Linked DNA regions of Homo sapiens: region 2 is linked to region 1. Evidence: fine-mapped expression QTL. A gene starts in region 1. The other region holds a variant in brackets. All regions are shown on one strand. Distances are from middle to middle.

Region 1 (2,911 bases):
CAGCCTGGGCAACAGAGCGAGACTCCGTATCAAAAAACAAAACAACAAAACAAAACAAAAAACAGTAAAGAGAATACTATTGAGTTAATTTTACAGTTTTTCACGCTGTGGGTGTTTTCTATTCTCGTCTTTTGCTTAGCTGTCCTGTCTCCCTCTTTTTCTCAGGCAATAGTTTAGGATTTTTGTAAGTTATATTGTCAGTACTTCTCATTTAAGTTCCAGACAGTGTGCTAAGCAAAGCACTTTACTCGGTAAAGTAAGAGCTCACTTAATCTTCAAAATAACGTAGCAAGGTAGATATCACGAACATAGCAAGGTAGATATCACCGAAGGGAAAACCGCTCCCCGAAGGTCCGAAGGTCCAAGGTCTCTCTGCCATCTAGCTGCCCTGCGTATTGCCTGCCAGTGGGTAGTTGGAGCTGGGTATCTCTCCAAAGCTGGGCTCTTGGCTGCCCTTTGTGAAGGCAATTTTAAGGGACAGCAGGATGTGGAAGCCTGCGGTTAAGGAGTGAGCTGAGTCACTGGGTAACCAGTGTTGAATAATGTTTCTCAATGTCTGAAATGACACTCACTTCCTTTCCAGATTGGTAGAGGAGAAAAAAGAGGCGCAGTGAAAGCGCTCTCAAGGTGCGGTGGGTCAGGGTGATAGGCGGCGCCCGGCCGCTCCCTGGGGGTCCTGAGGGCGAGACCCCGGCAGGCTCCCGACTCCGGGAGCCGGGCGGGAGTTCGGTTTTCGCCGGCGCTCCACGGCCAGGCCACTTCGGAGGCAATCTGTGGCGGGGCGGGCGGACGCGAGGGCCGCCTCACCCCCGCGCGTCTTCCGGGACACCGGGCCCTCGGGCGCGCGGGAGGCGGGCTTAGCACGGGCGCAGGCTGCCCTCGGCGCCCGAGACACCCAGGCACAGCTGGAAGCTTCCTCCCCGTTAGCACGCGGGCCGCAGCGGGGGCTTGACCCCAATGCGAAGAGTCGGGTTTTCTGATTGGCTGAGAGTAGAAACGCAGGCGAGCGCCGCCTGAGACCCGCTCTGCGATTGGGTTTTACACGAACAGCAGAGCACGAAATAAAGAGGCCTTCAGTCATTGGGCCATTATGTGAATCTCCTTTTGGCTTCTCTGCAGACTGAATAAGCGTCTCAGGATCTTCGTCATGACTCCTAAATCTGGGCCTGTCAGTTCGCCCCAGCGTTTCTCGTCTCTAGGCACGGCATGGGGCTTACAGAGTTTAACCAATCATATAACGTCGAGATCAGGTTGCCAGGCAGATTATGCTAATAAGACCCCGCCTTTTATGCTGCTCCCACTCTGCGGCGGGAAGAACCACCTGGAGGTGGCGGGGGGGGTTGATTTCTATCACCCCTAGGGAGAGAGGATCGGGGACCCGCTGATCTTCCAGCTCCCCTCACCCAACGTCGTGTAAGTACCTAAAGGATTAAGGGAACCAGATAAGCCAGGGTCCAGACTACCCCATAGACTGGGAGGGTGTTTCGTCTTTGCTTAGTCCCACCCAAAATGGCGCCCAGCTCTTTCCGCGTCTCAGAGCCCGGCCGGGGCCAACCGACCGCGGACCCGGGTGGGGGGGGAATTGATGGTGGTGGTGGGGGGGAGAAATCCCGGCGGCACCGCCCGATGGTACAGTCCAGCCGGGGCTGGGACGAGGCACCTCACTCGGGGTGGGGGGTCAAACCATCTGCACCTTCCAAGGGGAAGAGGGCAAGGCCCCCTCCAGCAGGCCCTCCTGGCGCCGCGTTCAGCGCCGGCCTCGGCGTCTCGTCGCCCCTGCCTTCGCCGCGCGCAGCCTCCCCCTGCGACCCCCGAGTGGCTCGCACGCTCCGCCGGCCGCGCGCACCTCTCCTCCCCTGCCCGCGTTGGTTGGGCCGGGACGGCGGTTGGGCGGCCTGCGCGCTCCGGCGGCGGCGGTTGCGCGGGCGCTCCGGGCGCGGCGGGCAGGTCTCCGCCGGCCGGGAGCCGAGCACCGGGGGCTGGGGGCCGGGCGCCGGGCTGGGGGTGGCAGTGCGGGCAGGGCTCCGGGGCTGGCCGGTTGCGGGCGCGTGGGGCGGAGGGTCCTGTTCGATGGGGCGCCCAGCTTTGTCTGCGGAGGCCGCGCCGCCCACTTGCCATCGATGGCTGGGCCCCCGGCCTGCCTTCCCAAGCTAGCGTCCGGGACCGGGGCGGGGGGCCGGCCCGCAGGGGTGTGGGGTGGCCCCTGCGGGTCTGTCCCGTGGCACCGCGTCGGGGCTGGCCGGGCGGAGGCGGAGGCCGAGGCCGGGGTCGCGGCCCTGCCCCAGTCCGCCTGCACCCAGGGTGCAGCGCAGAGGCAGGGCGAGGCCGGTCGGCGCTCGGGAGAGGGCTGATGGTGTGCACCTCTCCAGCCCCTCGCCAGCTTTTGTTAAGCAGGTTTAACCCTGCAGCTAGGTGTTGATACTCTACTAAGTAAAATGGAATATTCCCCGTCTGCCCTCCAGCCACGCGAACGCAGCGCTGTTGAATTTGTGTGCGCGCCTTTAGCCTTGCTTGGTGGATGAGTTGGATTTTAGTGCATTTTCAATCAATGTGCGTGTACACTTAAGCACAAGGAGAGGTGGCTTTGTGCTGTCATCGAGGATTAGATGTGTGATGAGACCCACCCAGCTCTGCCCTGTGCCCTAATTCTGCTGCTTTGCCTGTTGAAACCTTGCCTGTCTCGTCACCCCAAATTCTCTAAACTTAGCAGTACTTAACCTTTATTAAAAACAGCAGAATCACTCATGACTGTTTTGTGGCCTCTTTTTCTGACCTGTTCTCTTTGTTTCTATCACTCCTCCATCGCTGTAAGGCAAGAAGGTGTATTATTACATTGTATTTTTTTTGTATCTTCCTACCATTCCAGCATCACAATAGCTTCCACTTTGATGAGCAGTACTTATTTGTTGTT
Region 2 (2,911 bases), 73 kb after region 1:
AATCTGAGCTGACAGTCCCTCCGGCACTGATCTCTATTCCTGGTTATTGCAAATTTCAGGACTTGCTACATTTTCCCACAAAGGAGCAATTTGATGAGGCTGAACCAGCCACTCTGAATGGGCTGGATCAACCAGAACAGACCACTATCCCAATCCCTCAGCTGCCACAGGAAACCCAGTCTTCCCTGGAACATGAACCAGAAACTCACACCCTGCACCTGCAGCCGCAGCATGAAGAGAGCGTGGTGCCCACCCAGAGCACGCTGACAGCCGACGACATGCGCAGAGCCAAGCGCATCCGAGTAAGTGGGGAAAGCCGGCGGCTCCTGGCACCAGCCGCTCATCTTCCTCCCACCACCAGCTCTCTGGTGGTTTTCTAACCTATTCACCTTCCTCTCTGAAATCTTGCATCTAGCCTGTCACATGCTCGATCCCCTTATTTTGAAAGAAAGTGTTCACTATTTCTCAATGTCTCTGTGTCCCATGGCAGGCTGGCATGGCTGGTCCTAGATTTGACCAATTTAGTGACGACACAGAGGCCTAGAGGTTGGCAGCTCCTGGACTAGCTCTCTGCATCCCTCAATTCACAGATTGGAAGTGGAGAAATAAGTACATTTAGTTATAATAATCATTTATATTTTAAACCAGGCTAATTTGTGCCTAATCATAGCTCTCAAGTTGATTTTGGGTAACTAAATGTGCTTATCTACAGCTTCCCAGGGGAGAATGGCAAATGTCATTACTCATCAATGTAAAGTGACCTGTGTCCAAGTTGATATGGCAGGTACAGTTCACACACCTGCGGATAGCTTGAGCCAAAGCTGTCAGTTCGAGAGTTAGTCAGTGTCTGAGTCACGGGACCTGTGTCTTGGCCTCAGACCATGCGGCTGCAGGGCTTTCCTGACTTGCAGTTCAGATGCGTTTTCTCTTATTATTTCACAAATAGCATTTGACTCTGAGTTAGGAACTGCAGGGGATTCGTGTGGAAAACAATATGGCTTTGTGGGATAAGTGTCTGTGCTGATAAAAACCAATGACTTACAACCCATGTTTATGGCAGCTGAGTGCATAAAGACATATTGGTACTTTCCAGTAGATGAAAGAGACATTTTGTATAACTTCCCAGGCTTTACAATTTCTACATGCATGATCGTTCAGCGTATGTTTCTTTTGGTCTTCTTATTTGCCTCTAGGCTAGAAGGGACCTTGAAAAATAGTCTAGTCCATGCCTTCATGTAAAAACACATTTAAACATTTGTAGTCATATGATAGCTTTGAAGGGCTCTAAGAACTGAGGCTAAACAGCCTTTATGAGAGCCCTGTAATCGAAACATATGAAACTCTCAGCTCACTGTATATTATTTCACAAGAGTATATCAACATACAGAAATACAGGCCAGCAAGGAAAACAAGCTATGAAGTAATATCCCATCCATCCTTCTCCTTTAGTTCCTAATCTGCACTTCTTTCTCTTGCTCAATTACTATATTTTCTGCTTTGGCCATTCTGATTTTTTTTACTAAGTCCAGAGAAACCCTTGCTAGATTTTTTTTTTTTTTTTGGAAGGAAAAAAAAAAACCGAAGCCCACACATGCAGTGAAGTTGTGGATGCACAAACACAGTCCAGCCGTAATTGTACTTGCATTTTTGAATGAGCAGGGTTACTGGTTTTGGTGCAAGGTTCCTTGTGTCAAAGCGAAAGCCATATGTATCTGGCTTTTGGAGGTCAGTCTTAGTTGAGCTATTTTGTTTTTTTTTCTCTCACACATTCTAAAAAGTAGGGCTATGTATTTTTTCATCTTTT[C/G]TATCCAGATTGGTAATGACCAACTGAAGGGAAGTCTTCCAATCCAATTGGTAATGTAACTATTTTTCTCTCCTCTAATGCTGCCTGCTCAGTTGGAGCTGCAGGTAGGTTTGTTTCCTGTGTTTCACATAACAGAATGTTACTTGTTTGCCTGACCTGCTGTTCTTTGCAACCTGTACTTACTAAATCCTGGTGGAAACCACAGTTTGGTTGCTACAGTAAATGCAAATTAATGAATAATGATAATTTATTTGTAAATAGATCAAGGAATAAATTGTGGGCTGCAGGTTCCTCATATACAAAATGAAGGGTAGGACTAAGTGATCTCCAAGGTCCCTTCCAGCGCTAAAACCATTGGAATGACTTATGCAATAGTGTTGAGTTCTAACTGTCTATTTGGCACTATGCTAGGTACACAATAGAATTTTCACTTGAGCTTGCAGTCTAAGTAGGAAATCAATACTAATGTAGGGGAGTTTACAGTTAGGTGTTAAATGTAAAAGTATAACTTGGAAGAGTGAAAGGTTGAAGTAAAATAGAGGAGTCAGGATAATTCTTGGATAAGGTGAGACTTAGACTAGCCCTTGAAAGAGAGGAGGAAGGTAGACTGTTTCAGAGAATGATAGCCATAGGATCAGAGGCCCAGACACAGGAGGTTCTTGCTGTGGTTGGGACAGTGCAGACATGAGCCTGGCCCTAGCAGGGGTGCAGTGGAAGGATGGTGCAGAGTGAGCCGAGTTGGGCAGGGCTGGCCAACCAAAGGCTTTCAAAGTGGGCAGAAAATTGTCCAAAGGAAAGTTGTTTAAAAGACCCCAAAACTGCCAGGCATAGTGTCTCACACCTATAATCTCGGCACTTTGGGAGGCTGAGGCAGGTGGATTGCTTGAGCCCAGGAGTTCGAGACCAACCTGGGCAACGTGGTGAAACCCTGTCTCTACTAAAAAAAAATACAAAAAAATAGGTGGACATGGTGGCAGGCACCTGTAGTCTCAGCTACTCAGGAGGCTGAGATGAGAGAATCCTCTGAGTCTGGGAAGTCGAGGCTGCAGTGAGCTGTGATTGTGCCACTGCACTCCAGCCTGGGCAATGGAGTGAGACCATGTCTCA

Which allele goes with the higher level. Positions count from the first base shown, and alleles are read on the strand shown. Sizes are in standard deviations (SD) of each study's normalised expression.
For the expression in skeletal muscle of the gene that starts at base 1,300 in region 1, G is the low allele of the variant in region 2 and C is the other (large effect, 0.89 SD a copy in GTEx).

The links.
Region 2: its variant is fine-mapped to the expression of PRDM10 in skeletal muscle (GTEx, PIP above 0.99).

What each region holds. Positions count from the first base shown.
Region 1 is chr11:130,001,224-130,004,134 of GRCh38, reverse strand. It overlaps PRDM10 (PR/SET domain 10), which reads left to right and starts at 1,300. Exons shown (of 21, transcript NM_199437.2): 1 at 1,300-1,413. It overlaps PRDM10-DT (PRDM10 divergent transcript), which reads right to left and starts at 1,511. Exons shown (of 1, transcript NR_024233.1): 1 at 1-1,511. RefSeq lists silencers at 577-966, 1,677-1,996, 2,007-2,056, 2,087-2,266 and an enhancer at 1,077-1,166.
Region 2 is chr11:129,928,407-129,931,317 of GRCh38, reverse strand. It overlaps PRDM10 (PR/SET domain 10), which reads left to right. Exons shown (of 21, transcript NM_199437.2): 11 at 60-302. Among named protein-coding and RNA genes, the nearest start is that of NFRKB, 34 kb to the right of the region's middle. The variant C/G (reference allele first, on the strand shown) is at 1,805.